Linked DNA regions of Homo sapiens. The protein of the gene in region 3 interacts with the protein of the main gene of each other region in a pairwise test. Each region holds a gene or a part of one and is shown on either strand. Other genes may lie near its edges. The genes, in order: RNF8, DMRTB1, RBFOX2 and CHERP.

The links.
Region 1: the proteins of RBFOX2 (region 3) and RNF8 interact in binary tests that used the Homo sapiens proteins (3 or more experiments, as listed by UniProt).
Region 2: the proteins of RBFOX2 (region 3) and DMRTB1 interact in a two-hybrid assay, tested with the Homo sapiens proteins (3 studies listed by BioGRID).
Region 4: the proteins of RBFOX2 (region 3) and CHERP interact in binary tests that used the Homo sapiens proteins (3 or more experiments, as listed by UniProt).

What each region holds. Positions count from the first base shown.
Region 1 is NC_000006.12:37,363,961-37,370,989, reverse strand, and holds part of RNF8 (E3 ubiquitin-protein ligase RNF8), read right to left. Parts: intron 2,613-7,029; exon of another isoform or gene 2,507-2,612; coding exon 1,772-2,506; intron 1-1,771. UniProt on the Homo sapiens protein: E3 ubiquitin-protein ligase that plays a key role in DNA damage signaling via 2 distinct roles: by mediating the 'Lys-63'-linked ubiquitination of histones H2A and H2AX and promoting the recruitment of DNA repair proteins at double-strand breaks (DSBs) sites, and by catalyzing 'Lys-48'-linked ubiquitination to remove target proteins from DNA damage sites.
Region 2 is NC_000001.11:53,462,392-53,468,010, reverse strand, and holds the end of DMRTB1 (doublesex- and mab-3-related transcription factor B1), read right to left. Parts: intron 3,375-5,619; coding exon 3,164-3,374; intron 1,417-3,163; coding exon 1,349-1,416; 3' UTR 523-1,348; downstream 1-522.
Region 3 is NC_000022.11:35,738,817-35,745,845, reverse strand, and holds part of RBFOX2 (RNA binding protein fox-1 homolog 2), read left to right. Parts: intron 1-1,596; coding exon 1,597-1,641; coding exon of another isoform or gene 1,642-1,651; 3' UTR 1,652-7,029. UniProt on the Homo sapiens protein: RNA-binding protein that regulates alternative splicing events by binding to 5'-UGCAUGU-3' elements. Prevents binding of U2AF2 to the 3'-splice site.
Region 4 is NC_000019.10:16,525,412-16,532,440, forward strand, and holds part of CHERP (calcium homeostasis endoplasmic reticulum protein), read right to left. Parts: intron 5,470-7,029; coding exon 5,358-5,469; intron 5,264-5,357; coding exon 5,174-5,263; intron 4,490-5,173; coding exon 4,237-4,489; intron 2,845-4,236; coding exon 2,669-2,844; intron 267-2,668; coding exon 1-266. UniProt on the Homo sapiens protein: Involved in calcium homeostasis, growth and proliferation.

The DNA.
Region 1 (7,029 bases), on a different chromosome or scaffold from region 3:
GGAAGCTTTCCAGGTGATCATTAACCTATATGTCCAGCACCTTCCAAAAGAACTTCTGGGCCCTTCTGTCCTTAAGAATTACCTACCCATTTAATATGCCAACTTGAAATTGTTCTCTAATTTACTATATTGACTGAAAACTATTCTCTGATTATATCGTGTGCAGGAAACATCTTGCCTCCTCAACAAGATAAATTCCTTAATGGCAAAAACCATTTGGTAAGCATCTTTATAACCACTAGAATTCCCTAGTACCAGGCAATTTGAGTACTTAAAAAAAAAAAAAAAGTGTGAAGGAGCAAGGGTTTAATGAGCTTCTAAACCAGCAGTAGGGGATAGGATAAATCCTCAGGGCTTGGTGGGCAGAGGGAGATGCAGCTGATAAACAAGGGACTAGATACACTTCACTATGAGCATCATATACACAACCAACTCATACCCAGAGAAATTCTCTAAACCAATCCTTTCGCCTTTAACATTTTGGTACAGAAAAAGATTTTGCAGCTATACCTTGAGGCATGTCCAGAGCAGCCACAAATATTAAGCAACAGTAACTTGTTCCTGAACATATTAGCCTTTACAGAGAGTTCTGTCCTGGTGAAGGTGTGATATACTAAACACGTAGACATAAACCACCCTCTATTAATTTCAAGAACTAGTCTAGGCTGGATAAGGGAAGCAAAAAGGTACACATAAGTAAGCAGTGTATACTCTCAAAAGACCTATTTAATCCATGGCCTTTGCTAATACTGTCAGTTCAAGGGGATGGCAGAGATCAGAATGAAATTTATAAATTGCTCAGAAATAAGCCAACACTACCCCTGGCTGTTCCTTACCCTGAGCAACCCAAACAAAAAGCTTATTCACTTTAGTTGTGACTGGTCCGTCTGAGTTCTAAGTCAACAATGGGGAATTCTTGACATTCAATATTATCTGAGCAACTGGGTGGGAGCAAAATATGTGGTTCCTGCCAGATAGGAAATGACATTTTGAGCAGGGACAGGATCTGCTCTAGCCTAAAGCTTTGTGCAAGAGCTTGTCATCTAAGCAAATGACTGAGGGATGGAAATACATTTGGTCTTACCTTTATACAGCTAAGACAGTCATTATTTTACCTTCCTACTATAGGCACTGTGGAAGGTGGTTTATCATTCAACCCAACAATGCAGTCATGGTGCATCTGTCCCATCACATGCTGGCTGCTCAAAATAGAAACAAAAACATTTTCTGCCTTTTTAGCCCCTCACCTCCTGGCTTAGCTACAGAGTTAACTAACCTTTATAGCTAACAAACTGTCAGGTACCAGGGCAGAGGAACCAGCTGACCTGTACCTGCCCTGAGACTAAGTGATTTGGCCTTGGCCACAGAGCAAAGATACACAAGTCTTGAAGACAACTATTGATTCAATTGGACTATACTGTGGTTTTGTGGCATGTTGACCTTCACCTAACTTCCCCCTGAATTCATGTTGGTTCTGAGTTGCCTCAGCTTTGCCTCCTGGGATGAGTTATGCCCTGGCTGGCTCTGCTGGTCACTTTACCCTATCTTGGCACTCTAACTCTGGCTCCTGATCTCATCAGCATGCTGAAGCCTTAACCCTCTACTCAATCCCCTTCCCTTATCTCAAAAGTTTACTGTTCCCATTCCATTTCCTGTCTTTGGTGCTCAGAATTTGGTACCTGGCCCAGAAACTGAGAACTCTGGCCAGAGACTCATGAAGTGCCTGCCCCACCCCTGAAGACCACTCTTGCCCTTCCCTTCTGTGTGGTACCTGAAGATGCTGTTCCTCTTCCTGGAAAGTCTTCTCTAGTTGCTCCACTCTTGCCTGCTGCTGAGCCTGCTCTGCACACAGCTGGGACTGTAAGTCCTGAAGTTCCTGCTCCATTTGCACAACTTTCTTTGAGTTCCCCTTTTGGGTCTGCTTTTTCACATTCATAACGGCTTCATGTTTTTCCTGCATCTGTATTTTGAGCCTCAGAATCCTGGACATGGTCACCTTAAACATCTGTAAGCTTCTCTGAGATGCTGAAGAGTTTGAGGCTTTCTGCTCATGATGAACCTCTGTGACTTTGGGGAAGCCAGGGTAAATGGGAGCCCCTGTGGTCTTACTTGGCTCAAGGGCAGTCAACTTAGGATCCAAATTGTCAGAGGGTGTACTGGCCACTTCACCTTTCCCCTGTGATTTCACTGGCTGACCAGATTCACAAGACACTTTATTTATTTTGGATTTCAAATTTGAGGGGCCTTCAGCTCCAGGACCTGCTAATTCATCCAAACTGAATTTCCTTTTAGTTCTCAATTCCTTATTTTTTTCTATCATTTGGTCATTCTTTGGGGAAAGACAAGGATATATTGTCTCCCAGTCTTCTTCAGTAACTTCATATTCATACTCCGCATTCTCCTTATTTTCCAGAGGCACTCCAAGTTGGATGTAGTCTCCCTGATGAATGGAATAGACCCTTAAAGGTTCCAGACGCGCTCTGTTCAGCCAAACACCATTTAGACTCTGGGGAAAGTGAAAGAAAGAAGAAATAAGCTTCATGATTTTCGTCTTCTTAAAGGAATCTCTCTCCTGCTGCTGTAAAATCTTCTGCCTTTTCAGAAGGAAAACTCTTGATAACAAATAGAAAAGAAAGATTCATAAACGACCATCCTTAGAAACAGCATTCGTCAAGCAGTGCTTTGGCTTTTTACCTATATTTCACATTCATGCCTCCACAGAGAACTGCCATATAACAGGCAGGAATCACCTTATTATTGGTGGATAATTTACTCAAACACATGGAATAGCATTAAAGGAAACTGAAATTGGATAGCTCCTATTAACCTAAACTGGAGCAATGTCCCAAAACTAGAAAAAATGCTATTAGTGAAGAAAGCAGTAGCTAAGGGTGAGGTCCATGAAGTAGTTTCAAATGCTATCTCTGGATGTGGTTCCTTAACGCACTGGTAAGCAAGCAAGCACACATAAACCAAAAAAAAGAGAGTACTATATCTGGTACTGGGGTCAAATGGCAGGTAGGATCTGACCCAATTAATATCAACAGGGGTATATGGGCAATACAGGATAGCGGTTAAGAGCTGGAGCTCTGGACTCAGATGTGGGTTCATAGTCTGCATAGCATTTGGCAATTTACTTAACCTCTCCATGCCTCAGTTTTGTCTGCAGAACAGGGATGGTACAGTACCTACCTCACACTGTTCCAGTGAGGAATGAATAAGATAATGCATGTAAATCACTTAGCACAATGACTCACATAGAATAAATGCTTAATAAATATTTACTGTCTGGGAGTGGCAGCTTACATCTGTAATCTCAGCACTTTGAGAGGCCGAGGTGTGCGGATCACTTGAGGCCAGGAGTTCAAGACCACCCTGGCCAACACAGTGAGACCACCTCTCTACTAAAAATACAAAAATTAGCCAGGTGTGGTGGTGGGTGCCTGTAATCCCAGCTACTTGGGAGGCCAAGGCATGAGAATTACTAGAACCCAGGCGGCAGAGGATGCCGTGAGCCAAGATTGCATCACTGCACTCCAGCCTGGGTGACAGAGCGAGACTCTGTCTCCAAAATAAATAAAATAAAATAAAAATTTACTTTTATGGTTTTAATGAAGTCATAGTATTGAGGTTAAGAGCACAGATCCTGGAGTCAGACTGCCTGGGTTTGTAATGTGGCTCTATCATTTAGCAGCTGGGTGATGTTGGCCAGGTTTCTTGACCTCTTTATGGCCCAGTTACTGCACTGATAAAATGGAGGAAAATAAGTCTCTCCCTCATGGTGTCTGTGTGGATTTAATGAGATAACATATGGCAAGTATTTAGACAGTGCCTGGGCATCGTATTACGTAAGTGTTCACTACTATTACTATGCCTTGGTTCAACTGATTCATCAACAATCATTTCAACTCTATGCTCAATGTCACGCAAGGTAAATATATTGAGTGAAAAGGACATGAAAGCTTTCAGCAGCTGATGGTGGAAAAGACAACACAAGGGCACAAATGAGCAAATGTGGGATTACATGGCATAGCCTGTAAATGCAAAGGAATATCATGTGCAGCTGGGATAGCTATGGGATGCTAAATGGAGATGATAGGTCCTAAAATAGACTTGAAACAAAGGCAAGATTCAGAGTTGAAATATACTGGTGAGCATTTTAACCCGTATCAAGGACTTAAGTTCAGGGGATAGGCCAGAGATGAAGCTCACTTCTGAATTGGGACCAAGATTTATGTTTACACTGGCAACTACAGCTACCTACTTTCAGCTAGAAAAAAATCTCCAGTCAACCCAAATATGAGGGACAGGGGGCTTGACCACAAGGCACAGAGGGTAAAGGGAAAGTAGAGATCAGATCTTAGCTCTGGTTTGGCATTAGGCCCTTGTTTCCAGTTTTATCTTCCATTACTTGGTTTACACGGAAAGAAAGACTGGCATAGATACATACAGAAATATTAGTCTTAACCCACTGTGCATTGGGCCTAACCTGGTTCATCTAGGAAACCTCCTCACACTCTTTCTATTCAGCCTGAGAAACTATGGGGAGTGATAAGGTTTGCTGAATTTTGAAACAACATATGAGAAATAACAACAGAGAGGGATGGAGCTAGAACAATCTATCTGAGAACAATTTTAGAGCAGGACAGTCGATTTTAGATTATACACAGGAAAAAGGTCTCAGAAAAAGTAGTAAGACACAGAAGGCCACCTAATGCCAAGGTACAGAAATTTAAAGGAAGTCTCCAAAGCTAAGATAAGGTAAAATAAATAAATAAGATTACAGAAACAGCCCACAGCTAAAGAGAGTAGGAAGTTTGCCCTCAGAACTTCTGAGTTCTGACAGTCCACAGCTAAAGAGAGTAAGTTTGCCCTCAGAAGCTGGGGCAAACTTTCACGATATGTTGCAGCCTTCCATTAGATCCTCTACATTAACCCATTGCCTTCAGAGCCCTTTTAGAAGCTGGAAGGTAAACTCAAAATTCTCCCATCACATTTTGTCCTTGGATCCTTGTACATTTACCCATTCATTACTTCTTGGTGACATCTAGTGGTATAATTTAAACCAAGCCCTGAGTCAGGTCTGTTCATATAAGGAGACTAGAAAAGGACAAAAATCCCATGGCGGTACAGAACAATCAAGTACTGCCAGATATGATCTCAAATACAATGGCTTAAATAATCATGCTCTGTTCAAGGCTTTCTTAATGTTGGTTTTCATAACTACCCATTTGAACAATGCTAGCAGCAGAAAATGATACCCAGAAAAGTCTGCCTGATGTGTCCTAGCCACCAATGGGAAAAAAGTGGGATAATTCACATCCACTTAGACAGGAATTACTTCACTAGATGCTCAATCTCTGTCCAGCTGCTTTTAAACAGTTATTGAGGAAAGTGGACACTCAAACCAAAAGACAATGTTTTCTTGGAGTGCTTTAGATAATTTACGTAGCTCAGTGGTTCTCAACCCTGGCTATACAGTAAAACTACCTGGGAAGGTTTAAAACAAAGAGCAGTGCCTAGGTTTCACCCTCGGAGTGAGTTAAGTGGTCTGAGATAGGAACTAAGTATCAGTATTTTAAAAGTTACATTTATCTATAAACACATATAGTTGTGTAACTATATCAAGAAACAGTGCCCCTTGGTAGTCAACCTTTCCCGCATTCCCAGGCAACTACTTATCTGTTCTCTTCTCTTTCCCAGAATGTAATACAAATGGAATCTTATTATCTACACTTTTGAGTCTTGCTTCTTTCACTTAGTGTAACGCCTCTGAGATTCGTCCACACTGTTGCATTATCGGCAGTTTGTTATATTTTATTGCTGAGTAATATTGAAGGTAGTAGGGGTGGAGCACAGTTTATCCATTCCCTAGTTGTTTTTTTTCCCAGTTTTTGGTGAATATTAATAAAGCCACTACAGGCCAGGTGTGGTGGCTCACGCCTGTAATCCTAACACTTTGGGAAGCCGAGGCAGGTGGATCAGCTGAGGTTAGGAGTTCAAGACCAGCCTGGCCAACATGGTGAAACCCACCTCTACTAAAAAGACAAAAATTAGCCAGGCGTGGTGCCGCATGCCTGTAATCCCAGCTACTCGGGAGGCTGAGGCAGGAAAATCACTTGAACCCGGGAGGCAGAGGTTTGGGGAGCCGGGTTCACGCCATTGCACTCCAGCCTGGGCAAAAAGAGCGAAACTCCATCTCAAAATATAAAAACAAAAAAAATAAAGCCACTAGAAACATTCACATACAAGTTTCTGCGAGAACATAAGCTTTCATTAATCTTGGGTAAATACCTAGAAATAGGATCACTGGACAAGTATATATTTGACTCTTAGAAACCACCAGTTTTTCAAAGTGGAGGTACCATTTTATATTCACACTTGAATGTTGAGGAGTTCCAGTTATTCTGCATGCTTGCCAGCACTTGGTATCATCAAGTCTTATTTCAGCAATTGTATTAAGTATGTATCCGTCAATATATTTTTTAAAGTCTTTACTAAAGCGGAACATGCAAACATAAACGTGCACAAATCATAAATGTACCAACTCGATGAACAGTCACAAAATGAACATCTTAGTGTAACTACCATAAGGTCAAAAACAAAACAAACCCCACATTATCAGCATCCCAGAAACCCCTGTGTGTCTCCTTCTAGTCAGTAGCCACCTTGGCAATAAAGTGACTACTATCCAGATTTAACAGCACATGTAAATTTTGCCTGGTTTTAAACATTGTATAAATGGCATCATATAATATGTATTCTTTTGTGTCTGTCTTCTTTCACTCAATTTTTTTTTTTTTTTTTTTTTGAGACAGAGTCTCGCTCTGTCCCCCAGGCTGGAGTGCAATGGCCTGATCTCGGCTCACTGCAAGCTCCGCCTCCCAGGTTCATGCCATTCTCCTGCCTCAGCTTCCAGAGCAGCTGGGACCACAGGCACCCGCCACCACGCCTGGCTAATTTTTTATATTTTTAGTAGAGACGGGGTTTCACCATGTTAGCCAGGATGGTCTCGATCTCCTGACCTCG
Region 2 (5,619 bases), on a different chromosome or scaffold from region 3:
TATGAATCCCCTAAGACTCTCTGTCTCTCCCACTAGATGTCATGTTCCTCATGGGCAGAGCTGGGAACTGTCAAGTTCTGAATCTAGTAGAAACACAGGATGTTTTCTAAATGAAGGTATAAATGCAACCAATGGAAGAAGCCGAGGACCCTAAAACAGAATTGGTTCAAGTTCTGTTTTTTTAAATGCATGTTCCTATGCAGGGACTATGGAAGGAGCTGGAGGAAGGAAACTAAGACATCTTTACATTTTGTGTGTCTACATCAGATTTCCTTAAAAGGTCTCCATTGCTTAAAATAACAACAGTAATAATAAAGAAGTCTACTAGCCTGGCCCAATCCCCTCACTTGATAAAGAAAGGGGAGGTAGAACAGGGAGGGCAGGAACTAAAAATAGGAACTAAGCAAGTGCAGACAAGGCCAGCCACAGGCCACAAACCAAGGCCCCCAATCTCCCCAACTCAGGCTCCTGCCAACCCTACCTTCCACCAGGATCAAAGGGAGAATAAGCCTTCCACAAGGATTTCCATTGCTCATTTTATTTCAATAGCCAACTGTCCTCACAGAAGAAACTGTTCATGTCACAGGTGATCAGAAGCACCATTCTATTCCCTAGGGACTGCATCAGTGCTTATGAACAGCCTACTTTTTAAAGTTGGCAATCACTATAAAAACATCAAATAGTCAAACTAATAAATTTTTTAAAACCAGTGCCCATAATGGCTGAAACTTTATGGAGGGGGAATGAAGTAGCCCCAGCAGCCAGGATGCTTGCTAGTAAAACCCCTTAGAGGAGGGGCAAGGGGCTGTGGCCAGGAAGATGTGGGGGACAGAGCAGCAAGGCAGGATGCTGCAGAACCTGCTGTCAACGACCCTGGTCCTGGCTGCTGGCTCCAGCCACCTGGATGAACTGGAATCTTGATGTCTGTGGTGCCCCCAGCAACCTGGAGGACCAGGCAAAGGCAGCAGAAGGCTGAAATAGATGGTGCCTCCTGTCCTAGAGTGGGGCCTGAGGAAATCAAATACTGCCTCTGGGGCTTGTTCCAATAAATGGTAGTGTAACCCAAGGACAGTTAAATTCATTCCTAAATGGGAGCTTCTCCCAGCGCCCACTCCTCAGAGCCCTGGCCCTCCCCTGGTAATAGCTTCCTCCACACTCTTCTTCAACTGTACAGCGCAGGATTGAAACTTAGAAATTGCTCTCCTTCCTCCTATCTTAAACTGGGAATCAGTTGCCATCTATGCTATCAACCTCCTTCCTCCCTACATATCACTGAATGAAGACAAGAAAACTGTTGCTGTTGCCCCCCAGTGCCCCACTCTGCTGGCCAGGAGGGCGGGCCTGGGGCCTAGTCGGACTGCTCCTGAGACGATGGCTGGCTGGGCTCACCCGACAGTACCTCTGCATCCTGGTCATCTGTGAAGGACAAAGAAGGTAGCTGGATTTAGAAAGAGCGAAAATTACAACTACCTATTTGCAGATGAAGATTTTCTTTTTTCTTATTTTATTTTAATTTTTTTGAGACAGAGTCTCGCTCTGTCACCCAGGCTGGAGTGCAGTGGTGTAATCTCAGCTCACCGCAACCTCCACCTCCCAGGTTCAAGCAATTCTCCTGCCTCGGCCTCCTGAGTAGCTGGGATTACAGGCACCCGCCAACATGCCCAGTTAATTTTTGTATTTTTAGTAGAGACAGGGTTGCCCCATGTTGGCCAGGCTGGTCTTGAACTCCTGACCTCAGGTGATCCACCCACCTCACCCTCCCCAAAGTGCTGGGATCACAGGTGTGAGTCACTGTGCCCAGCCCAGATACAGATTTTCCATAAGCCTTTCTCATCATTCCCAGCCCTAGGGGAGAATGTATTTTCTTTAACTTGTTAGGCGCCAGGAGCCTGGAATCCTAGCCTTGGCCATGTGATTCAGATTCAAGTTCCAGCTCTTGCTCTGCTCGTCACAAGCTGGGAGGAATTAGCAAGATACTCCACAGCTCTGAACCTCAGCTTCCCCTTCTGTAAAATGAGACGTATCCACCTTGCAATGGCAGCATGGGCACTAAGTGAAACAGACAGTGATAGGCCACCTTCACCAATGCCTTCATCACTTCAGGTTCTGTTTAATCCTCAGAATCCTCATGAGGTAGGGACCATTATTAGTCTCCTTTTACACATGATGAAACTGGAGCACCAAAGAGTAAATGAGCTTGCTCAAGTTACACAGCTGGGCAAGTGCTGGAGCCAGGACTCACACCCAGGCCACCCAGCACTGGGGCCAGTGGTTTTCAGCCACATGAAACCACCTCTCCAGCTACTGGATCTAGGCACTGCACACACAGGAAGTGTGCAACAGGCCTCAGTTTCCTCTTCAGTAAAATGGTGATACCACCAGACTCCTCTAGCTCATAAGATGGTCTGACAGTCATTTTAAAGGCCTAGTTGAGTTTGTCAGTTCTTTCCAAATCATAGGAGCCCCAGGGGAAGACTGAAAGGAAAAATGTCCTAGAAGCTTTAAAGCTGCAAGGGCCCTCAAAAGAAAACCCAAAACATTTTCACATCCAAAAGTTTCTTCGACCCTCACAGTAACCTAGTAAGGGGGCCCCTTTTATAGTTGAAAAGCCTCAGTGCCCAGGATCATCCAGTGCCCCAGTGGCAGAGCTTGTGAAGGACAGATTCTCTAGCTCCTGGTCTGGTTCCCTCAGAGTGGCCTGGGGCAGAGGCACAGCCCCACCACACGGGTTCCTGCTGCTGCTCCAGTCTCTCCATCTGCTCCCCTACCCCAGCTAGAGAGGCCTGGCACCTCTGGTCTTCCAAACACACCATATGCCTGCTGTCTTCCACAGCACCGCCCACGAGCCAATAAGGTGAGTGAACAGGCACTAGACTGGGAGCTAGACTGAAAAACTCTGTTCAAATCCCAGCTCTGCCATTTATACCCAAGAGAACTGCTGGAGGCCCTGGTTTCCTCACCTGGAATCCCATTCCCACCTCCCTTAGATGTGTGCCTATGGGGACTGGAGGAAGGGTGTAAGAAGGAGCTCATTCTAGGGCTCAACACCCTTTAAATTCCATGTCCCTTCTCTCCACACCTAACCTTTCTTCAGATTAGGTACCTCTTCCTCCAGAAAGTCTCCCTGGCTCTCGCTGAAGCTGGAAGACTGGAGCTCACTCACCAGTGTTCTCCTTGTCAGTATCAAACAGGACGGTCAGTGAGAAAGATGATGGAGGTGGTGGTGGCGGTGGCGGGGGGAGGAAGTGGAGCGCAGAGAGGTAGCCTGGCGGGAGGAACTGGGGCTGCGGTGGAAGCGGTGGAAGGGGCGGCAGTGGCGGCGGCGGCGGCGGCAGGTAGTAGCTTGGCTGGAAGTCTCCTCCTGGTTCTGACACCTGCACGGCACACACAGCAGAGAGGCGGAGAGGAGAGAGAGTTAGCCAGATGGGCTGACCAAACATAGCTCTCACCCCTGAAGTGGGGGGCTCCTGATGGGGTAGATGCACGGCCCCAAACACACAGGCACAGGGCATTTGGAAGGGGGCATTCAGCAAACACCTGCCAAATTATTGAAGGCAAGAAGGAACACAGGCAACCTCAGATAAGCATGGGAACAGCTGAACGGTCACAGTGACAGAGCCCTTCTGTATATGCCAGGGCGATTGTGCTTGGGTGCTCAGAATCCTAGGCGGTGGGTTCTATTACTATTCTTGCTGTAATTATGAAAAACAGGTTCAGTGAGATGAAGCTACAGGCCCAGGGCCGCAGAGCTGCTTTGTGGTTAAGGGGCAGAACTGGATCCCAAGTTGGCTGACTCCATAGCCCACTCAGCTGACTTCTGTCCAGCGCTGCTCTGCACTGGGGAAGGGTCTGAACGCATCCCAACCCCACAGGACCCCCTGTCTGGCACATGTGGTGACTTAAACTCAAGTGCCAGGGGGGCCTTTGGGAGAAGAGGTTGGCAATGTGGGTGTAGCGCAGCTGTTTCTGAGGCAAGATACACTGGGTGACTTCAGGCAAGTGGCCTCACTGATGAACATTTTGCTGCTTCTGTCCCTTCTTCAAGGGATGGAATCCAACCCCTTACCACAGCACAGGGCCCCATCAGAGGATCTGGAGAGGGGATGACTGCACAACTCAGAGCTTAACCAAGAAACACACAAATGTCGTAAGAAATAATACTGAGTTTTGGATGTAGTTCCTGTCATTCACTTCTCTATCCAGATGCTTCAGAGCAACACATCCTGAGCTGAGTTTCATGGAGTCCTGGTGTCCTACAAAGTATTTTTTAGTACTCTTAAAAGTGTTCTTTGTTAAGTGAGTTTGAGAAACCCCATATACTGCTCCCCACATTAGTGGGTCACACATGAGCATATTAAAGGCTTGGAAGAGTCTGCAAAAATCTCCTTAGATTAACCCAGCACTTCCTAACTTCGTTCAACCAGCAGGAAGGGAAGAAATCTCACTTTTAAGTACCTACTATGTGCCAGACCCTGTGCTAGGTATTTTACATGCATCGCCTTATCTATTCTCAGGAGCCCTAATAGATAGGTCCTCTCACTCCCATTTTACAGACCAAGACCCGAGTGAGGTCCTCAGAGGTCAGATAACTGCCACGGGTCACGTGGCTGGGACACGACGGGGGAGGCAGAATTGGACCCTAGGTCTGCCCACCTCCAGGGCCAGTGCTGTCCTGTGAACAGGAGGGCAGAGGAAGCCAAGCAGCAGCAGGTGGGCAGGGACAGGAACAGGAAGGAGGAAACTGTTCTGGAGAGCACCTCCAAGCCTTGGCAGGGGGCAGCAGGACAAGGATGAAAGTGATTCAGGGGCTCTTGGGTTTGAAACAGCTCACAAATCAATGCCTGATTCTCTCTCCAGACTTGAGAGGGTGGAAGAGGGATTATTAGTGCTTTAATTCCAAGCTTCTCAGCCAAGCATCTCCCTGGATCACAGCTCCTGCCTGGGGCCTGTGGTGGCAGCTCAGGCCCAGATAAACCGACTGAGATCACACTCTTAACAAAGGCCGTCTGGCAGGCCTGTCAATCAGAGCGCTGCCCTGGACGCCAGGCTCCAGACTTCTGTGTGAGCAGACGGAACGTGCTTTACTTGGCCAGAGCCCCTCTCTTTGTGTGGAGGCTGGAGATGCCTGGCTCTCCCTGGGCAGTGCCCACAGATGTCAGGCAGGCAGCAGTGCTGGTGTGAGTCAAGGGCCATGTGTGTTCTACCTCTGTGGGAGGGAGGGAAGGGCAGTGGAAAGCACCTGGGCTCCAGAGTCAGGGCGACTGAGGTGCACGACCCGGCTCTGTCACCAACCAGCTGTGTAACTGGAATCCCAGTCTCTCTCTCACCAGTTTTGTGACCCTGGCCAAAAACTTAACTTCTCTGAGCCTTTTTTTCTCGATGCTACAATGGGGTATAATACCTGCCTTGAAGGTTCAATAGACACCCTGGAATTATCAAGGCCAGTGGCTTTCAAACTTTCTTCCCTTGAATCAGTGGAAAATGATTTTTAAGCACAATCTCACAACATCTAAGATAAGTGGAAGAGAAGCTGCTGCCGCCAGGCTGAAGCAGGAGTGAGGACCCAGTGACCTGTGTGCCCAACCTGCCCGGGTGAAGCTCGAGCCCCATTGGACTGGC
Region 3 (7,029 bases):
AGGTAGTAAATTCAGCCTTTCATCCACCATCAAGGTATTAAAGCCACATAGATCTACCTGGAAGTTTCATGTCACCCTCTTTATTTGTGTGTTATTATAATGTGAGCCACATGGCCTAGTTAAGGGCAGCAGAAAGGAATGATCATTGATAATATGCCCCGAGTAGTGGCATGATTTGCGAGAGAAATAGGGGAACTGGTGAATGTTTTCTATTGGTTCAAATGTTGAGTGCATACCTGTGGCATAGTTTCATTGATAGGTGTTGGCAAAGGAGCATGGAGCATAAGGCTGTAGTATTCACAGTAAGCTTTTCAAAAACTTAAGTTTCAAATGCAAATCTAAAGGATGTCTCTGCTCTTCCTAAGCCTTCTGGTAGATAGTACTAGAAATTCCTAAGTGAATGCTTTATAGGATATTTTATTATTGATTATTGATAACAATTGTGGCAAAATATGGTGTTGTTGATAGAAGTATCGAAGAAGTCCATAGAACTAGCATAATTTCTTCTGACCAACCACCTCACTGCAGTATTATTGTGTTGGCTTGGATGCCTCCAGTTTCAGTGATTAGGACTCACAGGCTGCAACAAAGACAGGCCATTCCACAGTGACACCTCTGCCAGGGCTTTCTCTCTAATCCAAAATGCAACTGGGCAACTACCTCTGGACATGGGTAGAGTTGTTTGAAAAGGAGACAGAATGAAATGTAAAATGTAAGACCTAAAGGAATATGAGAAAGCTACTTCTCACACCAAATTTCTACTGATGAAGATTTGTGGAAGGAAGTAATAGGGGGCCCTGAGGGAATATATGTTTATAAATGAAGTAGAGCATTACAATATAACGGCAGTGGTAGAAGTGCCTGAGGTTGTATTTCGTCCTAAAATGATATAAGTCCTATGCTAAAAGAATGACCTGAGAAAGATGCATTCCTGGGAAACTTCTAATTGAAAGAGATAAGCCATTAGATAAAGTCATTTGATAAACATAAAGGAATAAAGCCTAGTTAAAACCCCAGCTAGATATGTAAATGTGAATATGTCAAGAAACAGCCTAGTTGGTGTGCTTCGTAGATGATAGAGGAAACAGACTTTATTAAAGACTGGCTCAGGTTTAGATGTGGCACCATCTCAAACATGGGCTGTGACCACACATGGCAGGGATCGTGTCAGAAGTAACGTGCACTGCCGATGGGTCATATGTGAGAAGGAGAAACTGGTGATCTGTTTTCCACCAGGATTATAAGGCTGTATCAAGGTAAACAAAAACCTGTGCTTTTAAAAATCAAACTCTTTGCGGAACTTGTTTTCAACTGTGTATTGTTTCCCTTCTGTGCTAATTCATGTAAATAATGAAATAAAATGTCGTCATACTCTCCTTGAGAATATCAGGTCAGCAATAAATGTGTTGGGCTCTGGTCTGAGCACCTTAGAAGCAGAAGTTGGTTTCCTGACTTCACTGCACAAGGCAATGCTTGATCAGTTGCTTTGAGGCTTCGAAGCAGGCTGTTTCTAGATCCCTCTCTGGACATTTTTCTTCACTGTTAATGCTTCTCTCATCAACCTTTTAATTATTTTTATCTCTTTAATTACTGCAGGCGAGTTTATACCGAGGTGGCTACAGCCGATTTGCCCCCTACTGAAGTGACGTGAGACCCCTGCAAATGGGACAGCCCCCCAGTTCATGAGGCCTGGCTATTGCAATATTTACTAGTAGAGGAACTCTATAGCAAGATGAAGAGGAAAAACAAACAAACAAACAAAAAAAAACACAAAAAAAGAAAGAATACTTTTTTATACCTCACTATGTTCTTTGAATATGTATTTTTCCTTTAAATTTCTGCCTTTAATTCTTTTGTTCCAAAGATTGTGCATTTTTTTCTTTTTTTTTTTAAACTGTGGTAAAAAAAAAAAAAATAATGCATTTCCATGTCTGTATGTCCGTGCTTAGCTTATTCTATCAATCACGGAAGAGGCAGTCAAGGAGGAAGGAGAGACATTAGGAGCCGATAAATGCATCTGATCAGAAATCAGCAGACAGAATTACCAAAGTGTATCTGGTGCTGAATGACTGGGGGACAAGCAGAAGTGGAAGAGATCTTTCTGCAACAGGATATTCTTCTAGTCTTCTGAGTTTCTGGTCTTTGACAGGCAATTCTGGTTGGCTGTGGCTGGAATCCACATGCTGATAGATAGGAATTTGTGCTTACAAAGCAGGAGAATTAAAAAGACGCTTTCCTCTCCTCTTCCCTCCTGTCTTCTCCGTTCTTTTTACAATCATCTTACACGCACAGCCTGAGACAGCTGGCATAGTTTTTGGAATTATAGTATTGATATTTCCAAACGTGCTCTCAGACAGTGGATAATAAACACCTCATTAGGAAACCGATCTCAGAATGAACTCTGGAGTATGAAAAAGATCATTTCTTTTTGTTCCTGTAACCTAGCATTCCTTCTAGGCTTCTTCTCCTTTAATTGAACCACAGCTTAGCTCATGTATTCTTTTATTAACACCCTGCTCTCATGTCCATAAGATTCAGGAATTTAGGACCCAGGGACAGAAAAGTGAATAAGCCAGTGACCAGATTTCCCCCAGATGTCTTGAGGATTAGAAGTACAAATTGTTGACAGCCATTAAAGAGGGTGAGGAAGGGAAAAGGAATATTAGAAGATCTGGTATTTCTTACTTTTTTCTTGCCTCAGAAAGTACAAAGTTTAAAAAATAGAATAAAGAATCTGCTGGGGAAAGATAGAGTACCAGGTCCTAGGTCAGTAGTCCCTGGAAGTTTTGGTGATGAGGACATGGAAGGGCAGGCAGAGGCACTTTGTACTTGCTCCAAAGCCATAGGAATTTTCATCTTCCAGAGCCTTTATGAGTCACTTCTCTATCCACAGTCTTGAGCCTGTGGCTATCCCGCTGAGCTTCTCACTGTCCTCCAAAAACACCCCGCTGAGCACCCGGACCACTTTGTACACATTAACACTACAGGACATAAAATGCAGAGGCCCTGAGATTGCTGCCCTCCCATATTGGAAGGAGGGTCTGCGATGGCAAGGGTCTTCTATATCACCAGAAAGAGTCGCGCAGTGAGTCACTGCCGTTGCCATCTGGCTGTAATTTTCTATGTTATCAAGGTAGGAGGGAGTGTTTCTCTTCTAGCTGTTAGATAGAACTGATAAAAGCAAGTGTCCTACAGCATTTCCCAAATGAAGGCATTAGGAAATAGAAAAGCACGGTCTTTTTGGCTCCCTGGTCTAGTCACATTGGTACTAGGGTGACCTTTCACCCAAGGGACAGCTGCTAAAGGGAGTAATTCAGAGACATGGAGCTTCTGGTTATGGGTTTGTTTTGGGTTTGTTTTTAACTCCTGCCTCCACACATGTTCTTGACTGATAACTGACTCATGTCCCTGAATTAAAATGACTGACCTATGACAGCATCAAGCATTCTTTGTAAGCAGAGTGATATATCTGAGAGGGCGTTGACCTGTTGTGTAGAATACATATCCTTTCCCCCTTCAGAATCCTGTCTCGCCTCGTAACTGGGAGAGAGGCTGTGCCTGAAACTAGGGGCGATGTCAAGGAAGCTAGAGGCCTCGATGCAATTATTACTGACTCTGGGGAGGAAGACAGAGAATAAGGGGACACCAACTGCCCAGTCCACTGGCCATTTTTAAGGGTCCCCCCACCCCAAGCCAAAGTTTGGTTTGTTGCTGTTAAGACAATTTTTGTTGTATGTATATAAATATTTTAGTTAGAGGAGCGGGGAATGGGATGCGGGCTTTCACAGTTCTAGGGAATGGGGGCAGGGAGGATTTTGCTTTTGCTTTTGCTTTGAGGGAGAACTTTAGCTGACTAAAAAAACAGAAGTTTGGGGTCATGATCACAAAGGGGCCATTCCCAAAAGATGGCAAGCCACGTATTCAGTGGAGACTAGGCCAAATTCTAAATGGTTTTATCCATAGCAGGGGAGAATAGGAGAATGAGTTTAAGAGTTTTTCTCTTCTTTTTTCCTAGAAAGAGGTAAGGATAATGGGAAAGGTAGAGAAGGCGGCTCCCACAGACCTTTTAAGAGAGGCAGAATCTTGAGCTTGAGGCACCTTGAGTGCATCTCAGTTCAGCTGGTTCTGGCTGAGGCCTCCAAAGGCAAGCTCTGTGCTTTCCAGTGGTTTCTGCTGCATTTCCAGGGATGGTGTTTAACACCGCTTCCTCCAGCTCCCTTTTCTAAGAAAGAATAAATGGAGTTCTGCTTTTTATGAAAGGGTCTTTGGTTTTCAGTGTCAACACTGAGAATTGGGGCTCTTGCAAGCATCTGGATTTCACAGTATCAACCTCCCCGTCACCTTTTGAACTTTGAGACTCCGTACGGTCAACTTCACCAGAGGCAGGTTGCTCGAAGCAGCACTGCTTGTCTGTTCCTGACTCTGGTTCTCACTGTATTAAAAAAGAGAGTCAGAGGAGTCTGGCATTTCGTGAGTTTGTTAGAGGATGCTGGCTGATAATTCCAGAAAACTTACTGATGCTAAATCACAGTACATGCATGATTCTTTTTCAGCTTTACTATAGTTCATGACCTGGACTTTCTGTACTCTTGGAAGCTGGGCTCCTTAAAGGAGGCCTCTAGTGAACACCTTTATCTCCATGTCCCTCTTAGAGCCCAGAGAGCTGCCCATAGGCATTTTCCAGAATTCCTCATGTCACCTAGTTCAATTTCCATTAACTCAGATCAGCCATTGTGATTCACCATTTGTCAGGCTCTCAGGTTTAACAAAACCTACTATCACCATCATCCTTCAACAGCCACAGTCTGAATTGAGCCAACATTTTTTTTTCTTTGAGAAAGAAGTGGACTGGGGCACAACTTTTAGTCTGAGGGGAGCTAGTGGAAATCTAGACAATAGAAGTCATCGATAGCAGCTTTTCCTCAAATGTGTGACTCCTCAGGGGCTAAACTGCTCTTAGCTTAGAATTATGCTTTACTAGAGATCTAGCAGATAAGTGGGTTAATCACTACCATCCTGTAACTAGTTATATAGCTTCCAGACATGAGGGAGACATCAAACAGGGATGGAAGCAACCCCAAGGATATGCAAGAAGGGCATGATGAACCCCCTTCCCTCTGGCAGGAGAACAAGGCCAACCAAGGGACAGACTGGAAAGCACTTAGATGTTTAAGGAGGAGAAAGGGGAAGCTTTGACCAGTCCTTGCCTTTTGCCAAGTTCAGCCAGTTCTCCGCTGCTTGCAACCTCTAGCGCAGTAACATTTGCAGAATTGCAGATTTTCCCCCAGATACTAGGAGGAAAGGGACTTTGGGGGGTGGGGAAGGGGTCGTGGTGTTTTAAAAGCATAAGTTACCTGTTTGCACTGTTTTAAGATAGGAAAAAAAAATAGTGGGCAAGGTGAACATCAGACGTAAATTTGTGTGTTTTTATTTTGTCATGCTCTTGAAAATGTTTGACCATTTGTAGTATACACAGTGAAACTTGATTCTCTGTTGCATAAAACACTATATTTTTTTGGAAATGTTACTGTCCAAAAGCCTCTTCCCTCCCTTTCCTTTTCCTATGTACTTCCTTCATACTTGCTTTACTGATCAGCCAGGCAATAGCCATCCAAGAGCTAGAGCATGAAACAGGGCCCTTTCCAAGTAGGCTCTGGGTGTCCTAAGCCAGCGTGTGCCCTCTGGTTTAGTGAGTGTAATAGAGTCCCTGGCACCTTTCTTTGCAAATGAGGCTAACAGACCAGACTGCAGCAAGTTATCAGATTCCTCAATCAGATGCACTAGGAGTGAGGAGCCCAGGGATGGAGGGGGTTCCTGAAGTATTGCAGTTGGCTGTAGTAGCTGAGTTCTTTTCCATGTTACCGAAACTGTAGCCAGTTACAGTTTACTCAGGAAAACGGTAGATCAATTCAGCCATGGTAGTGCTGGTTGGCAGGGATTGGTAACGGAGAGAACTGCTCATCAGCCAAAACTCAAGCCTTGCCTTTTAGGAGGCCACCAGCAGAGGGACTTGGTCCTCCTTGTCTGGTACTTGTGTACATGCCGGTGACCTGAGGACTCCACTCACACTGGCGAGCAAAAAGGGAGCAGTGATTCTCTTTTCTCTCCCCACCCCCTGCCCTTTGTTACCAACACCAGTTTCCCAGGGGGTACATGAGTTTCTGAATTTTTAAAAAATGTTTTTGGTTTGGTTTTTCTGGGGACTGATAAGTGCTTTAAGCAATGTCCATACCCCGTCAAGACTCCCAGCTTAGTCATTTTCTTGTATTTTTCTGTTCACAGTATTTGTGTGTGTGCTTGTTTTGGCAGCTCATTTTGGCTGTATTATATATTGAGTGATGAATTGATCCTCTTTTTTCCCTAAGGGATATGAATTGTTTTTCTTGTGTTATATTCTGCTTGTGAATAGCTGGAGCAAACCTGGGGCTGACACGCGTAAGCTAGGGCTGCAAAGCGAGAAGAGAGCCGGTGGAGTGTACTTGTCCCTGACAGGCTGACCTACCTGAGTCTCTGAGCTTTTCAGTCCAAATCTTTGCAAGGCTCAAAATGCCACAGAACCTCTCCTCTTCTCCCCACTCCCCATGGCAGGGACCGGACCATCCCTACATGCAACATGCTGTTCCTCCAGCCCCTCCCATTGCCATGGCAAAACAGGTACCTTTGGGGCATGGGGGCATTACATGGGATGCTTGTGTAATCGACCACCTAGCCTTCTCTCTCCCCTCCCGTCCTCCCCCAGAATCACTTCCTAGGACACCCGAGCTGCTTGCCCAGGGTCCTGTTTCCCTGCTAACTCCAGAGAAGCATCCCAGGGCTTTGTGACAGTCTCTAATTCCCTTCCCTTCTCGTTAAGAATCATATTGTATAGTAGCTTTCAGACCATACAGTATTCATTGGGTTACTCCTATTATTATCAAGTAGCTGGAATTGTGAAGGTCGGAGTAGTTAGATCTTTAGCTTTTATTCCTTATTTTTTTGTATTACTCTCCATGTGTATAAATTATTGATCATGTTGCTGGCTTTTATAAA
Region 4 (7,029 bases), on a different chromosome or scaffold from region 3:
CCCCGGAAGTGTGGGGGCCGCTGCATGCGGAAGGGTGGCTCGCGCTGGCCCCCGCCCCAGGGCGGCTGCTCGTGCTGGCTGTTCCAGGGGCCCTCGAACTGGCTGTTCCAGGCGGCGTCGGGCTGGTTGTTCCAGGGCGCGTCGCGCTGGCCGTTCCAGCCGGGGTCACCGCGCTGCTCGCCCCACATGCCCTCATGGCTGTTGTTCCAGGGGGGGCAGTGGGGTGGGCCGCCCTGGTGGTGCGGGTAGGGTGGCTGCTCTGGCGGCTGCAAGGGAAGGGACAGGCTTGAGCCCTGCGTGGTCTAGGCCCTAGTGCTCGGCAGCATCACAGCGCTCGGCAGCATCACAGCGCTGGCTCAGACCATGGAGGCGCTGCCCTGGCCACGTTGAGGCGCCTCCTACGCTGACGCCTGCGAGGATGCTGGGCACCTGCTCTCAGCCCGCACCACATGCTGCTGCAAAATGACCAGACACCCAACCGCTGCACCCGCATCTCAGTCCCGGGGCTGTTTCTGCCGCTGGGGCGCGCTGCACCCGCACACAGGCCGCCCGCGCCACAAGGTGCTCCCCGCTACCACTGCCAGACAAACGCCAGCTCCCTCGCCCCTCAGGGGCAGGTGCAGAGGCACAGACGGTATCGCTTCTCAGGGCACCCCAGGCACCCATGGGGCGGGGCTCACTCTGACACCCCCTGCCCTGCCTCACTCCCCCTCTCCCCAAAAGCCGTCTGCTGGGCAGATACACTGCGGCACACACATCCTTGTCCTGGGGTCTGCTTCTGGGGACTTTCAAACCAAGCCAGCATCTTCCTGTAGACTGAAGACGGGAGGCTCTTCCCTCATCAGCTTCTGCTCTGGAGACTTAAAGCCAGGAGGGCAAACTCCAGCTTGGGCAGGGGAGGGGAGGAGCACAGAGGCCAATGAGAAGGCCGGTGTCTAGGGTCACAGCTGGGTAACTGCGCTGACCCCTACTAAGGGGAGGCTGGCCCAGGCTGCCACATTCACCAGGCTTCCAAGAGAAGCCAGAGAGCCAGATATTAAATATCAGGAACTACTTGTTTTTCTTTTTCTTAATTTGAGACAGTCTCGCTCTGTTGCCCAGGCTGGAGTGCAGTGGCGCGATCTTGGCTCACTGCAACTTCCACCTCCCGGGTTCAGGTGATTCTCCTGCCTCAGCTTCTCGAGTAGCTGGGATTATAGGCGCCTGGCACCATGCCCGGCTATTTTTTTATCTTTAGTAGAGGCGAGGTTTCACCACGTTGGCCAGGCTGGTCTCAAACTCCTGACCTCAAATGATCTGCCCACCTCAGCCTCCCAAAGTGTGGGATTACAGGCGTTAGCCACCACGCCCAGCCTTGCTTTTCTTTTTTAGAGACAAGGTCTCACTCTGTCACCCAGGCTGGAATGCAGTGGCATGACCATAGCTCAATGAAGCCTGAAGTCCTGGCTGAACCAATCTTCCTGCCTCAGACCACTGTGTAGCTGGGACGACAGGTGTGCACCACCATGCCAGCTTATTTTTATTCTTTGTAGAGATGGAGTCTTGCCTTGTTGCCCAGGCTGGTCCCAAACTCCTGGCCTCAAGCAATCTTCCTGCCTTGAGAAATTACTTTTAAACGTGTTAAGACCCCACATGGCCAAGTCAAGCAGGCCAGGCTGCTGTTTCTCAGTGTGGACTGCAGGATGCACTGCTGGCCTAGCGGGCACCCTCAGTGAGGGGCGTGCCCATTGTCCTGAGCCCAACCCTCTGGTCTGCAAAAAGACTGAGCCTGGAGACACTAAGGGCCTGTTTCCACACCTACAAAACAGGGACAAGAACTGCCCCCCCCAGCAGAGGGTACCTGCAAAACAGCCACCACCATCTGGCTCCTGGCCAGCACTTGGAGGTGGGAGCTGTCTTTATGGGGGTGTCCAATCTTTTGTGAGGTTCAATTTCGTGTCCTGAAGCTGGGGATGGGAGGCTCAAAGCCACAACCACCAAGTCTCAGTCCAGAGCCAGTCTCCTTGCCATCCTTACACCTGTCCCTGCAGACAGGGAGTCACCTGGAAAGGCCACGCTGCGAAGCCAACCAGGCCCCACGGGCAAGGGGGAAAGTCACGCCCTGGAAGACCCGGGGCTGTGCCTCAGTGCTGAAAGTGGACCCAGCACGCTGCAGGGCATTTCACAGCCATGCTGTGCCACATAAGGTGGCCCCTGCCTTGGCCCAGGGGTATGTGACCCATAGCAAAGCTGCATCTGAGGCCTCCCAGGGGCAACACGGCTGACATTTCTGACATTCCCCCTTTCCTTACAAAAGCACCTTGTTCTTTCCAGGATGACAAAACACTGACACTCAACTAGCTTAACCTGTTTAAGGAGGACAGGAAACAGAACACCCTGCCGTGCCTTGCAGCGTTAAACTCCCCTGCACTCGCAGGACAATGGTGATCTATACTACAGAGAAGCCCAAACCATCAAAGCTCGGGGAAGGGACGTGAAGACCTGTCACTTGACCTGTCCCGGAGCCACAGGAAGACAGGGCTGTCACTAACCCAGCATAAGCTCTGCCACAGAATATCCCTCATTGTTCCCCAGTAAGCCACTCAACGCCCACCAACTGGCATAGGGGAGGCTACCCCATCAGGCCAAGTGTGCCCCATCTGCTCCCACCCCAGGTTCCAATCAATACCTGCTGCTGGCCCCAAGGAGCCACGGGGTGAGGCTGGTCAAACCAAGGGGGCTTGTTTGGTGGGATCTGGTCGTGTGGCCCGGGGCCCCGGGGGCCGGCAGCTGCAGGATCCTGGACCCCTCCTGGAGCTTCGTACTCTGAAGAGCCAGGCATCTGGATGGGAGGCTTGCTGTCATCTAAATCCAAGTGACAGGCAGTTAGAGCAGGCCTGGCAGCAGGAGGCGCTGTCTCCTCTCCACACTACCCCAGAGCAAACCAGGCTACCGCTTTTAGTGCCCAGTGGATGATCGCTTCAGGACCCACTAAAACCATGACTATCACTGGCTTCCAGGAAGGGGACAGGGCGAGGGGAGGTTTCGACCTTGAACATGACACACATCTGTCCTTTTCAAAGCTTTACAAGAAACAGGCCTCACTTCTGCCTTCTTGGTTTGCTGAAGAATTTCTATCCACACTGAATTTGATTAGACATCTTTACTGTATCTAATTAAAAGGTCATTTCCCCACATCTGTTATTTTCTATTCTATACAATCCTCATATTCCTACAACAAATCTTCTTTGATCAGAATGTAATTTTAAAATCCTTTGCTAGGCCGGGTGCGGTGGCTCACGCCTGTAATCCCAGCACTTTGGGAGGCTGAGGTGGGTGGATCCCAAGGTCAGGAGATCGAGACCATCCTGGCTAACACGGTGAAACCCCGTCTCTACTAAAAATACAAAAAAGTAGCTGGGCATGGTTGCGTGCGCCTGTAGTCCTAGCTACTCAGGAGGCTGAGGTAGGAGAATGGCGTGAACCCAGGAAGCGGAGCTTGCAGTGAGCTGAGATCACGCCACTGCACTCCAGCCTGGGCGACAGAGCAAGACTCCATCTCAAAAAAAAATCAAAAACAAAATCCTTTGCTAGATTCTGCTAAGATTTCCTTCAGTATTTCCGTGTCTTTTTCAGAAGTGACACTAGATTGTATTTTCTGAGACAGGGTCTCGCTTTGTTACCCAGGCTGGAGTGCAGTGGTGTAAATGCAGCTCACTGCAGCCTCAATCTCATGGGCTCAAGTGATCCTCCCACCTCAGCCCCCAAGTAGCTGGGACGACAGGTGAGCACCATTTTTCTATTTTTAGTAGAGACGGGGTTTCACCATGTTGCCCAGGCTAATCTCAAACTCCTGGGCTCAAGCGATCTGCCCATCTTGGCCTCCCAAAGTGCTGGGATTACAAGCGTAAGCCACCATGCCTAGCCAATTATATTTTCAGTCTGTGCATTGTCCTTCCTGCCTGATGTAATAGTTACCCTAGTCTTGGGGAATGATCTGGGTACCTTTCCTCTATTTCTTTTCTCTGGGAACAGGAAACAGATCTTCTGCTGTTCAGGAATGGGATGGTTGTAGTTTTACTCTAGGATCACCTGGCTCGTGCTTGTAAATGGATGAAAACCTGGGCCTAGGAGCAGGCCTGGGACGAGGGAACAAGAACTGAGTCTGAGGGTGGCAGACTGCTTTCTGACTACACTCGGTGCCCAGCCTCTGGGGGCTGTTTCCTGGGGGCAGGCTGAGCTGAGGGAGCCCCGTACCAGGCTGGGTGGTGGGCGGGATGGCAGGGGCAGGTGCTGGGGCCGGGGGTGGAGCAGGCGGTGGAGGCGTGGCCTTGACTTCAGCCTCCATCTGCGGCATCTGGAGCTGCTGCTGCTGCTGTTGCTGCTGCTGCTGCTGCTGGGCCAGGCTGGTGACAAACTCCTCGTGCTGCGTCTTGAGGGTCTGGATCTGCTGCTGGAAGGCCAGCTGCACCGGCTGGACCACTGAGGAGTACTCGTTGATGAGGGTGGCCTGAGAGAGAGAAGAGCACCCGCTGCTCAGTATGCGGCCTTGGGGCTCGCTGCCTGGCGCCAGAGGACAAACGCCTGGAAAGCAGCAGAGCCTGGGGGACCTGGGGCAGGTGGACAGGGAACCGTCACGTGAAACAGCCAACACAGTCTGGGCAATCAGTGTGCGCTGGGATCTGGCCAGAGATTTGGGGATGAGGATGTTCGCTGCAGCGTGTTTTACGACTCCCTGATAACAGAACGAGCAACGACAGCCGTGTCCTGGCCGCTTCGTGGCTGCTCAGCGAACACTGCCCACCAACATTCTGGGACACGCTCATGGGCTCTGCCTCCCACTCGCCATGTGGCTCTCAGCAAGAGGGGCTGCCACAGCCTAAGCCACGTCTGGGCTTCCTCATGCTTCCACCACACCGGAACATGCCTGACCACCAGAGCAAATGGGCCATGTGCAATGACTCCGAAAGGCCGCCTGGTTCTAGTGTTCCAGGAAAGTCAGGGAGACACACCTAAGGCCTGGGAAATGTCACCTGGGACTCTCTGGTCAACACACACTGGCTACTCCTAGCACAGGCAGGGGACATGGGCTCTCTGGCTGCTGGGGTGGCAGCTGCTGTCCCCACACTCCCAAACCCTCCTGGGGAACCCGCCCCAGCTCTAGGGTGAGGTGTGGGTGGGCAGGGACACTCACCTGGTACTGACCAAGCCCCAGGGCTGGGCTCTGTAGCTGCTGAATGATGGAGTCATCGAAGTAGCCGTTTTTCTCCCAGAGCTGCAGGAGCTGGCGGTGGGAGGAGAGAGAGGCCGGGTCAGTGGGGAGGGGAAAGGCCTGTGTGTCCCGGTCTTGCCCAACCCCCGGCCCGGGGCCCACGCACCCGGGCGATCTTCTGCTGCTTGTCTTCCTCCACGGCCAAGAAGCTGGTGCAGTAGATGGGCACCACGACCTTCTGCAGGGCGGCCAGCAGCTCCCGGGCCTGCTTGCGCTGGCTGTGAGGGAGAGACTTTCCGCGCGTCAGGGCCCTGGGGCGGGACCCGGCCACGCGCCCGTTACCATCGCGGCTCCAGCCTCAGCGCCCTCTGCCTTCTCGGGAATCGGGTCCCCAACCCGGTCAGGGCGATGGCTGGGCTCCCACGAGACCTGTGCTGGTGCCTGGGCTCGAGGAAGGGACAGATGGAAAAACAGCAAGCAGGGGAGGGAGAGAACGTGGCCTGGGGCCGTTCTGAGCAAGGCCTTTTGGTCCAGTCCCCTTGATAGGAAATAACCTTCCCTCCTTCCCTCTTGGGTGGCGCTGCGGGTGAAGGGATATGGGCCGGCGGGAGCCCCTGCCTGTGTATGATGGGCGGGATGGGACTGCTGCGGAGTGGGGGTCTTGTCCTTGTCACTCACTATGCACAAGGAAACCTCGGCCCAGGCCAGGCCTCTTGGGAGAAGGAGGGAGGGTGCCCAGTCCCTCAGGAACCTAGAACACTTTAGAAGAGTGACCGGATGCCCAGCGGGGGGAGGCGCCGGGCCCATGTCCTCTCAGGGCTGCTGTGCAGTGCTGCACAGGACACTGTGCATACCTGGCCTGGGAGGCCCCTGCCGCTGCGCAGGGAGATGGCTGCCCCTGGGGAGGGACGCAAGACAGGAGGGGAGCAGCTGGAAGCCCCTCAGCCCTCAGCTTGCCGCAGGGGGCTCAGGGGAGCAAGGGCCTGGGCTGGGCGAGCAGCACTTGGCTTCGGACAGAGTAGAGCTAGAGAGGCGCGTGGCTGGAGAATGCGGGAAACTGTGCATCCGTGCAAGGCACCCGACTCAGAGGCAGGGAGAAATGGAGGCATGAGGAGGAGCAGAAGGGCAGAGCTGGTGCCGAGCCGCAACTCACTTCCCAGCAGGAGAGAAACAGGGACTGAGGTGGGGAGGCAAGAGGGACTCAGGCAGTGCTGCATGTGATAGATGGGGCGAGATGGGTGCTGGCAGCCTGGCCCACTGTAGAGGCACACGAGGCGCCAGGCCAGGACTGCTGCCCGCTAGGCTCAGTAGCAATGCTTGTCTCCTCCCGCACGTGCGGGCCTTTGGCCTGGGGTTCTATTGTTTTTTTTTTCTTTTTTGCTAATTTTTGTGAGAAGGGCCCCAGTGACCCTGTAGAAGGAAATACCCACCCAACCTTGGGGAGGGTGGAGACAGCAACAGTGGGAAGGGTGAGGGCTGGGTGGGGACAGAGGGTCGGCAGATGTGGCTCTGTTGAAGCCTGAGAGATGGGTCAGGGCTGGAGAAGGGGATCCCAAAGGAGGGTCCTGATGGCTGAGCAAAGTCAGGTGACCGCGTGTGTGTGCGTGCAAATCAGTGACGAGGGCAGGAGACAGACACAGAGGCCAAGGAGGCCGTGGCTGAGAAGGCAACAAGGAGACGCCAAGAAGCTGCCCCATGAGAGGAAGGAGTGCAGGGGACAGTGGCCCCCAGGAGACAGCAATGTGACAGGTGAGGCCGGGGTCTAGGGGAGAGGACAGGGCATGCAGCGAAGGTGCACAGGACACCTAGACCTCGCAGTCCTGGAGACAGAAGCCTGG